3 linked regions of the Homo sapiens genome follow. The protein of the gene in region 3 purifies or fractionates together with the protein of the main gene of each other region. This does not show direct contact. Each region holds a gene or a part of one and is shown on either strand. Other genes may lie near its edges.

What was found.
Region 1: the proteins of IBTK (region 3) and RFC3 purify together in Homo sapiens (affinity purification with mass spectrometry; one large-scale study listed by BioGRID and IntAct). This does not show direct contact.
Region 2: the proteins of IBTK (region 3) and RFC1 purify together in Homo sapiens (affinity purification with mass spectrometry; one large-scale study listed by BioGRID and IntAct). This does not show direct contact.

The regions. Positions count from the first base shown.
Region 1 is NC_000013.11:33,831,580-33,835,235, forward strand, and holds part of RFC3 (replication factor C subunit 3), read left to right. Parts: intron 1-3,568; coding exon 3,569-3,638; intron 3,639-3,656. UniProt on the Homo sapiens protein: Subunit of the replication factor C (RFC) complex which acts during elongation of primed DNA templates by DNA polymerases delta and epsilon, and is necessary for ATP-dependent loading of proliferating cell nuclear antigen (PCNA) onto primed DNA.
Region 2 is NC_000004.12:39,359,837-39,363,492, forward strand, and holds part of RFC1 (replication factor C subunit 1), read right to left. Parts: intron 1-3,656. UniProt on the Homo sapiens protein: Subunit of the replication factor C (RFC) complex which acts during elongation of primed DNA templates by DNA polymerases delta and epsilon, and is necessary for ATP-dependent loading of proliferating cell nuclear antigen (PCNA) onto primed DNA.
Region 3 is NC_000006.12:82,209,706-82,213,361, forward strand, and holds part of IBTK (inhibitor of Bruton tyrosine kinase), read right to left. Parts: intron 3,089-3,656; coding exon 3,002-3,088; intron 1,868-3,001; coding exon 1,785-1,867; intron 1,700-1,784; coding exon 1,662-1,699; intron 1,206-1,661; coding exon 1,109-1,205; intron 1-1,108. UniProt on the Homo sapiens protein: Acts as an inhibitor of BTK tyrosine kinase activity, thereby playing a role in B-cell development. Down-regulates BTK kinase activity, leading to interference with BTK-mediated calcium mobilization and NF-kappa-B-driven transcription.

The sequences.
Region 1 (3,656 bases), on a different chromosome or scaffold from region 3:
GATCATGTAAAAGTGGAATTTATATTAATTTTAATTTTCCTTTTAGGATCTCAGATTACTTAACATTAACATACAACACAAAGCTAGAGATAATGTGCGTAGCTTTCTAGTAAAGGACAATGTAAAACTTTGTAATCAATGATGCATCATGTGCTAGAAAGACACCAGACTATAAGTCAGACTTCTAGTTCTTGTCCTGAACTCCTAGCTAAGTGTTCTTGATCAGGTAACTTCATTTTAGAGTTTTATCTTCATTTGTATATTGAAGATATTATTATTGCCTCACCAAGGGTACTTTTGCATTTGTTGTGAAGAGCAAAAGAGTTATTAATGGTTTGAAAACTAAAAAACCCTGTGCTTATAGATGACCATGCGTTCTACTAAGGATAGCATTGTGTATATACCATTTTTACTCAGGAAGTATTTTTTGACACATTTGCTCAAAATTGCTTCCGTTACTTCTGTAGGTCTATTATTTGTAGGTTGACCATTCTGAAAATACCTCAGCTGCTAGTTGTTTGACTTATGGCAGCTTCGATTGAGAAACACAGTTTGCTTTCCTCCAAATAAAAAATGACAATGTTAAGGCCCACTAACTTTGGAGAGTATGAAGAAGGTTCCTCAGACTTGGCTAAAGCACAGTCTCATATCCTTGTTGGGTTTCTGAACTGAGAAATGATCTTTGGACCTTACAGAGGGTAGTTGATCATTTTAGGGTTCAGAATAAACTGAGTTCAGTCTATAGACTGAATAGACTGCAGCCAATAGAGCTTACTCTTCCTTGGTCTAATGAAAATAATAGAGGAATATGCCATGTTTCTCCTTTTGTTGATACATCTGATGAATTCTAATTTTTTAAGAAATTCTTCAAAGGTATTGTAACATGTATTCCCTGGTTACCATATAGATTGGTGGAGGTGGATAGTGGATCATACATAGTGGGTACTTAGTATTTCATTTAAGGTTTGCTTTGAATTCTCAGAATTCAATTATTTTAGTTGAAGAAATCGATAGTTTTCTCCAAGAAGTACCAAATGTTATAAGTAGTCTCATTAGAAAAGAAACTTCATCTTTAGGAAAAATATGTTCATTTTATTTTGTAAAATGTTGATTATCAATAAAGAGACCTCACCCTTTAAAGAGATAAAATTCAAATAAAGCATGTCTTAGGTGCCTTTTACTTTTATAAAATATTTCTACACTGAAGATGACTTTCTTGTTTTTGTTCTGATATTAAAGAAGAAAAATTGATAGCAATATAACTTACCTACTTTTAGGGGATTTAGGTACTTGAGGTTGTAATGTTTGATAATTATCACGTGCTTTTATAAAACTACTTGATTATTCCTTTGCTTAATTCTTCTAGCTGCTGTTACAAATTTCTTCTGGTTTTCCTAACACATTTTGACGGCTTATAAATGAACTTGTGCAGGAAGCGGTGCTCCTGTTTCCTGTTTAAACCAACAATTGTAGGAATTGATTCCATTGTGCTACATAAAAAGAAATTTTGCTCAATTCCAGAAAGCCTTGGGGCTGGCCAGAAATCCTGGAAGTCTGGTATCTTTCTGATCACTGGGCTACACAATTCCAAATGATTACTTCTGATTTCTGACTCCTTTGTCTTGCTGGAATATTTGTGGTCTCGATTTTTCATTTGATCTGTCTTAGAACAGTCATAATTTTCTAATTTGAATAGCAGCGAATATTTCATGAATGATTATGTCAGCTCTTACACCGTGTTATTTAATTGATATAACACACCTATGAGAAAAATATTAACTTTTTAGATTAAAAAAAAAACCCTGACATTTATGGAGATTAGGTACCTTGTTCAGGTACATTCCATTATTATAATAGAGACAGTTCTAGGATACCCATGTTTCTCTGACAGAAGAGTTTGTACTCTTAATCACTTGTAAGCTATTAGGAAATAATGACACAGACATGGTAAATGTAGAATATGTTAATTTTGTAAAACAGTAATGTTAGAAGTTAACTCAAGACTAACACAAGATGCATGTTAACATGTATGCACTACACACAGTATAGTTACTTCAATTGTATAGGTAACTACATCCTGAATCAACTTTTCAGAAGTAAGCTATATACATATATTAAAATAATTTCATACCATATGAAATTATTTTTATTATTCATGCTTTAATAATCAAGTTTTATTCTTGGGATGTCAGAGAAATCACAGGCTTTTGAGTCAGGCCTGAATTCAAATGCTGGCTCAAATACACAAGTCTTGATGGAAGCCTGACCTGTCTGAACTTCAGGTTTGTTTCAGTAAAAGAGCATCATTGTTGTGGGGAATTAATAGTGTATTGCAGCGAACCTAGTACAGAATTAAGGTGTTAAATACTTTCACAGACATTGGAAAGGGTGTGGACTTTGGAGTAAGAAAGATAGATCTGTGTTAAATCATGCTTTGCTGTGGTCAGTTCTGTCAGTTACTTAAACCATCTGGGCCTTAGTTTTTTCATCTGAAATAAATGGGCTAGTGTAAGTACTGAGTTAAATTATTTGTTTCAATTCTTACACATAGCAGATGCCCCAGAAATGCTAGTTCTTTTTTTTTTTCCCCCACTTTTTTTAAGATTTAATGTGCCAGGGCTTCATATTCCTGACGTCTTAGGATTGACTTCTGCTTTTTAAGAATTCTTATAAATCACTACCTGGATTTATCTGAAGTATGGAACATCTGTACTGTGTGTATATATATATATATATATATATATATATATATCTGTACTGTAAAAATTCAGAAGTTTTTCCCTTTAAGAATGTGTATTTGGAACTTTCTCTCTTTTTTTTTTTTTTCTGTTTTAAAACGTCATATGTACATTTCCCTCCTCTTCCCCTTTCTCTCCCTAGAATATGAGAAGGGCCTAGAATGAAGGACTCAGAGGTTTGAATGTTCCTATTCGCTTAGCCTGGTTGCGTGCTTACCTGTAAACCTTTGTGCCGCCCCTTTTATGACAGGGACAGCTCTGTATCCCTGCCACATTGCTTTTTTACTGTGCAATCTAGGCAGTGGCATTGTATTATATTTCATGCGTATATTATCTTGTGTCACCTATGTAATTGACTTTTTAATCTTTTCATGACCATTTCCTGGATGTTTCAGGTATCTGTCTGGAGAAAAGAAAAACATATTACTTGACATGTCATTAAAGTTTGTTAAATTCCATGGTGTGAATAAGCTCAACCCGCGCTCTTCATGAAGTCTCAATTTCTATCTGGTATTTTCATGGTGTTTTGATATAATTAGGAACCCTGAATATAGACGTCTCATTTTAAAAGAGTTCTGAAAATGTTCTGTTTCAAAAATGAACTGAAGTTAGGAGAAGCCTCCATATGTTTATCCTAAGTATGGTAAACTATTTAAGAAACAGTTATTATTTCTTACTGGATTGTTTGTTAATTCATAAAGTTAGGTCATAAAGTTGTTAATTCTGTATTGGATTGTTTGTTAATTCATAAAGTAAAACCATACAGTGGGAATTTGGAAAAATTACCTCTTATTTTCTTCACAAAATACCAATTATTTTGTTTTATGTAGGCTCCTTGAAGTTCGTGGAAGGCTGTATGAGCTTCTAACTCATTGTATTCCTCCTGAGATAATAATGAAGGTAACCCAATTTCAGATC
Region 2 (3,656 bases), on a different chromosome or scaffold from region 3:
AGAATAATACAGTGGACTCTGGGGAGTCAGGGAAACGGTGGGAAGGAAGTGAGGGATAAAAGACTACAAACTGGATTCATACCTACTACTTGGGTGATGGGTGCACCAAAATCTCACAAATCGCCACTAAAGAACTTACTCATGTAACCAAATACCACCTGTTCCCCAAAAACCCATGGAAATAAAAAATTTAAAAATAATAATAAATAAATAAAAATGAAGGCAACACAAAAATGTTTTCTTTTTTTGGCCGGGTGCAGTGGCTGACACCTTAACTGCAGCACTTTGGGAGGCCAAGGTGAGTGGATCGTTTCAGGTCAGGAGTTTGAGACCAGCCTGGCCAACGTGGTGAAACCCCATCACTACTAAAAATACAAAAATCGGCCAGGTGCGGTGGCTCACCCCTGTAATCCCAGCACTTTGGGAGGCCAAGGCGGGCAGATTACTAGAGGTCAGGAGTTTGAGAACAGCCTGGCCAATATGGGGAAACCCCATCTCTACTAAAAATACAAAAAAATTAGCCAGACGTGGTGGCATACGTCTGTAGTCCCAGCTATTTGGGAGGCTGAGGCAAGCAAATCGCTTGAACCCAGGCAGCAGCGGTTGGCAGTGAGCCAAGGTCGCGCCACTGCACTCCAGCCTGGGTGACAGGGCGAGACTCCATCTCTATACAAAATAAAATTAAAATAAAATAAAATAAAATAAAATAAAATAAAATAAATACAATAAAATAAAATAAAATACAAAAATCAGCCTGGCATGGTGGCGAGCACCTGCAGTCCCAGCTACTTGGGAGGCTGAGGCAGGAGAATTGCTTGAACCTGGGAAGCGGAGGTTGCAGTGAGCTGAGATTGTACCACTGCACTCCAGCCTGAGCAACAGAGCGAGACTCTGTCTCAGAAAAAAAAAGGAGAAAGCAAATTATGTCACTGTGTTCATTTTATCTTTGAAGAGTACACAGTTTTATGCAAAATAAGTACCGCAGTATGCTGCAGAGCGGTTGACAAAATATTGTATTTTGGTTTTACTTCTCTATTTTGAAAGTAATAAAGAAATATAAGTATTTCTGGTTAATATTTTAAAACAGCCCACCAAATCCATGAGCAGAAATGGATTATCATCAACATACTTCACAAAAGTCTATCCAAGTACAAAAATCTTTTATCCTGAAAATCATTAAAATGCAAAATCATATATCTGAATAAAATATATAATGATTTAACTGGTGGGAACACAGAAAAAAAATCATGAAATAATTGTGAAGTATTTAAGCCAGGCACGATGGCTCACGCCTGTAATCCCAGCACTTTGGGAGGCTGAGACGGGCAGATTACCTGAGGCCAGGAGCTCGAGACCAGCCTGGCCAACAGGACAAAACCCCGTCTCTGCTAAAAACAGAAAAATTAGTCAGGTGTGGTGGCACATGCCTGTAATCCCAGCTACTTGGGAGGCTGAGGCAGGAGTATCACTTGAACTTGGGAGGCGGAGGTTGCAGTGAGCTGAGATCACGCCACCACACTCCAGCCTGGGTAACAGCGCGACTGCGTTTCAATCAATCAATCAATCAATCAATAAAATATTTAAAATTATACTAAGGCCTTATACCTTGGAAGCAAAAAGTAAGCAGTTGGAGGGCTTTCCCTCTAAAATCAGGAAAAAGTATGTCTGCTCTTGCCACTTGTACTCAATGTTGTCGAGTTTCTAGCAAAAGAATTAGGCAATAAAATGAAATAAAAGACATCTACATTGAACAAGAAGTAAACCCATGTGTTTACAGATGAAACAATCTTACAGAAAAACATAAGAAATCCACTAAAAAATTTAGAATAATGAGTTCAGCAAGGATACAAGATCAATATACAAAAATCAATTGTATTTCTGTATACTTTTGCAATAAACAATCCAAAAATGAAATTAGGAAAGCAGTTCCAGCTGGGCGCGGTGGCTCACGCCTGTAATCCCAGCACTTTGGGAGGCCGAGGCGGGCTGATCACGAGGTCAGGAGATCGAGACCATGGTAAAACCCCATCTCTACTAAAAATACAAAAAAAAATTAGATGGGTGCAGTGGCGGGCGCCTGTAGTCCCAGCTACTCGGGAGGCTGAGGCCGGAGAATGGGGTGAACCCGGGAGGCGGAGCTTGCAGTGAGCCAAGATGGTGCCACTGCACCCCAGCATGGGCAACAGAGCGAGACTGTCTCAAAAAAAAAGAAATCAGTTCCATTAAAAAAATCACCAAAAAGAATAAAATACTTACGAATATATTTAACAAATGAAGTGTAAAACTCACACTGTGAAAAACTACAAAATACTATTTAAACAAACTGAAGACCTAAACAAATGAAGGCATCCCACATTCATGGATCGGAAGATGTAATATTGTTAAGATGGCAATATTCCCTAAATTGACCTACAGATTCAATAAATTCCCTATCAAAATTCCATGTGGCATCTTTGCTGATTCTAAAATTCATATAGAAATTCAAGGAAATGGAATAGCCAAGACAATCTTGAAAAAGAACAAAGGTGGAGGACATACTTCCTGACTTCAAAAATTATGACAAAGCCACGGTAACACAGTGTGTTGCTGGCATTTAGATAGATATATAGATCAATGGAACAGAACTGGGAGTTTAGAAATCAACTCTCGCATTTACAGTCAACTGATTTTTGACAAGGGTGCCAAGATAATTCAATGGAGAAAGAAGAGTCTTTTCAAAAAATGGTTCTGGGACAACTAGATGTCCACATATAAAAGAATAAAATTGGACCTCTATACTTCACACCCTATATAAAAATTAACTCAGAAATGGATAAAAGTCCTAAATGTAAGAGCTAAAACTACAAAGCTCTTAAGCATAAATCTTCATGACCTTGGATTAGCAAGAGAAACTTAAATGATGAAAAAAAGACAGACATGCAAGGATGTGGAGGAAGACTATTTCAAAGAAAGAAAATAGCAACAAAAGCCCGGAGAGAAACAGAACCAACCTAACACACTCAAAAGACAGAGAGAGAAAATCAGAGAGGTAGGTAGGGGCCTTAGAGGCCAAGTTCAGGTACATATGCATGGCAAAAGCATATTATTTGGCAAAAGCTATATTATAATAAAGTCGAGCACTGCTCCAGGGAGAGCATTCCACATAGTAAACCATGATGTGAAAGTTGCCTGCCTGTAGGAGTGGAGCAATGAAACAGTTCAGACCACAATTTATTTAAACTGACCTCACGGCTCTTCAAACAGCTGTTCCTTAAGTCTCATGTGTGTTTAATTCAATCTTATGCATATTTTCAATAATTATACCAACCAATTAATTATATATGCTGACTTCTTAAAAATGGCATCTCTCAGGTTTTATTCACGTTTTGTGCAAACAATTAAATCTCAGTGAAATTCAAATTGTCTACATGGCTTCTTTATTTCTTTTATTTTTAATTTTCTTTCTATTTATTTACGTGGTTCAAATTTCGAAAGGGTAAAAAGTCCCCCTCTTATCCTGCCTCTCAGACACATATTTCCCATCTCTGGAGGCAACAAATGTTATCAGTTGGTTCCTTCTGTATCTTTCCAGAGAAATTTTATATTTTGGCAATTGTTTCATATCAGAGTATAAAGTTTTCTCATTTTTATAAAGGTTGCACAGTATTCCATTGTGT
Region 3 (3,656 bases):
TTTTATCATGCAAATAATTTCTCGATTTTTAAAAAGAATGAAAGTAGAGAAAAACATACCATGTCTCAGTTATCTTACTCTCAAGTATACAAATCTTCAGAAATTTTGTCCTCAGTTAAACTCTATCTCCTTACAAGACTACCCAGATTTCCTAGGCAGACTCAGAGGCTAGCTTCTTAAAAATGCATCTGCTTTTTAGAGAATTACTCTGTTGGATTATATTTGTTTTCTTATACATTTGTCTTCTCCACTAGATTGAGTTTCTTGAATATAAAAAAAGGTCTATCCACTTATTTTTATCCCCAGTATACAGCTGGGGTTAAAAAAAACTAATGGAATATGACAGAACATCCAGTACCATTCCAATGAGTAAACATATCTTGTAACTAAAAGTTACTGTTTTGCCTAACAAAGTACATAAATGACCTCTCTTCATAAATTTTGGTACAATTTTTAATCTGTTTCTTTCAAGATGTGTAACCACAAAGGGGAAAAACAGGTAAGAAAGAACTTATGTAAGTATTTGTCAAAACTATCCCTGTTGTCAATTCATTCATCTCCATCATAGAAGTAGCTGGAAATTGAACTGCTGAATCTAATTTCAACCATTACCTACAATTCCTTTTTTTTTTTTTTTAATGAAACGCTTCACAAATTTGCGTGTCATTCTTGTACAGGGGCCATGTAATCTCTGTATCATTCCAGTTTTAGTATACTTGCTGCCGAAGCAAGCACTAATTCTCAAAGAGTTCATTTTCACATGGGTAATGAAAACCTTTTTCTGCTCCTTTACTATTAGCAATCATTCCTATTGCTTATTCTAAATTAAGCCTTTATTGGCCAGGCATAGTGGCTCACGCTATAATCCTAGCACTTTGGAAGGCCGAGGTGGAATAATCCCTTGAGCCTAGGAGTTTGAGACTAGCCTGGGCAACATAGTAAGACCCCGGTCTCCATAAATAATAAAAAATAAATTAAATATTTTAAAAATAAAATAAATTAAGCCTTTATTGATGGTTTTTTTCTATTAGAAATTAAGATTCACGTTGATTTTACCATTATTCCATTATATGTGAAGTATCTACAATGTCCTAACTCTTATTAATACCTTTTATCACCACAGCTTCATCAGTATAGAGGTAGTCCAAAATAACTTTTAATATATCAGAATGTATTGGCATTTCCAGAGCTGCACAACTGGAAGCCTAAATAAAATAAGACAAAATAAAGTAAAATAATTCATTCTAAACAATAAAATATTACATTCTAATTTGGGTTATTGGTACAAAACACTCTGAACAGGAAATCACATCAAATGCAAAACATAAAATTTACAAAACACATGGCTAAAATAATATTAAATTTAATTTTAAAACATAACATGAAAAAGGAACAAAAAAATTCAGAAAACAAGAAACACAGTGGTGTTCCTAATACATTTCTAAATAATAACGGGGAAATTTTTATTTAAGTAGCTTCTTGGCAATAATTTTAAATTCTAAGTGTTGCTATTTTCCAGCAGCCTCAAGCATAAAGTTTAATATAAATGAAAAACTGAGCTAAAATATCCAGTTCTGATTTTGAATTTCTTTACTACATACTTTGCACAAAATATAAAGAAACATAGTTACCAACCTAGGCGCTTTTTACTTAAATCTTACCTCAATCCATGAGCTACTCAGCATACTATGAAAATATTCTAAAAGAAAAAAAAGTTCAATGCAATAAGAATAGTGAAACAATACTACAGCAAATAAATCAGCAGCTTTAAAAAGTGCACCTACCAAGTCTAGCACAAAGAACACATTTATGACAAGGAAATTCCTTTCCATCCACTGATTTCATGGTCACGTCACACAGAAATGAACTGCAAGAAAATGTTTAATTGAAGCAAGAGCAATTTCTTTACATATTTAGTGAAAAAGATTATAGGATTTGGCTTAACTTTCAGTTTTCTCTTAAAGGTGGCAGAGAATAAATAACTTGCAGGAATACATACAATAAAATACTTCATCTTTTTCCACCACAGGGAAGATAAGGGCCTTAGAGTAAAGACAATATTTGAAAAGGGAGCCGAATACAAATATTCAAAAAGTATTTTTCTGATTTTCCTTTTTTTTATTCCAGAAAAACTGTTAATAATATAATACTAAGTGATATCATATTTAAGTCTCTGTAATTCACTTATTTGTAGTAGCTAATCTGGGCCAAGCACAGTTGAAACAACTCCACAGTTTATCCTTCTCCAAAACCTTTTCACTTACAGAGGAAGCATGAATAGCTAAAAACAAAACTTTTTTTTTCTTTGAAACGGGGTCTCGTTCTGCCACCCAGGCTGGAGTGCAATGGTGCAATCTTGTCTCACTGCAACCTCCGCCTCCCGAGTACAAGTGATTCTCCTGCCTCAGCCTCCCAAGTGGCTGGGATCACAGGCACCCGCCACTATGCCCGGCTAATTTTTGTATTTTCTTCGTAGAGACAGGATTTCACCATGTTAATCAGGCTCTTGACCTCAGGTGATCCACCTGCCTCGGCCCCCCAAAGTGCTGAGATTACAGGCGTGAGCCACCACACCAGGCCCTAAAAACAAAACTTTTTAACAATATATTTAGAATAGTATATTTATTACTAAGAATTTTTTATACTAAAGGCAATAATCATAACAATGATGAAGAGGTATAATTAATTGGTTTGGGGGCTAATAACATTTCCTAATTATAACAAGGCACAAAATTCAGGCAAGAAAAAATAAAAATTAAAAGTTCCACTCTCTATTAGAAAGTCATCGGAAAGAAAAAACTCCTTTGATGTCTTCAGCAGTTAATATTTTATCAATTTACTTCAACAGCTCCCCAACATTTCCAGAAATGCAGAATACTAGAAAAGGTAAGAGGGTATCTACCTATACATTTTGCTTCATATGTGGGTAAGCAGAGATCTATTTCCACACTTAAGTGCCAAAATCCAGACATGAAATGTTAATCTTCCTTTCCTTACTTACCATTTTTTCTGACTTAGCTTCAGTTTATTACCAGTGTTCTTGGCAATAACATTAATTTTTTCATTTTCAAATCTGACTCCATCTAACCTATCAAGGATAGATAAAAATTAACAATTGATATTCCCCTACAAAAATAAACATACAACAAAAAATCCAACAAATTAGCTTACATCTAAATATAATACTGTATCCTAGAAAAGTATCTCAACAAACTCCTACTCTGAGATAAAGAAATATCATACTTTTTCTTCCATTTTAGTTAGAATTCAAAATAGATTAAACATTACTGACAAAAGACAAATCAAAGCCATAGCACAAAGTTTTTCCTTTTTTTTTTTTGAGACGAAGCCTCGCTCTGTTGCCCAGGCTAGAGTGTGGTGGCATGATCTTAGTTCACTGCAACCTCCACCTCCCAGGTTCACATGAATCTCCTGCCTCAGCCAACCCAGTAACTGGGACTACAGGCATTCACCACCATTCCCGGCTAATTTTTGTAATTTTTTGTAGAGACAGGGTTTCGCCATGTTGGCCAGCTTGGTCTCAAACTCCTGACCTCAGGAGATCTGCCCACCTCAGCCTCCCAAAGTGCTGGGATTACAGGCGTGAGCCACCGCGCCCGGCCCCTTCATTATTTTTAAACAGGAAACACGATACA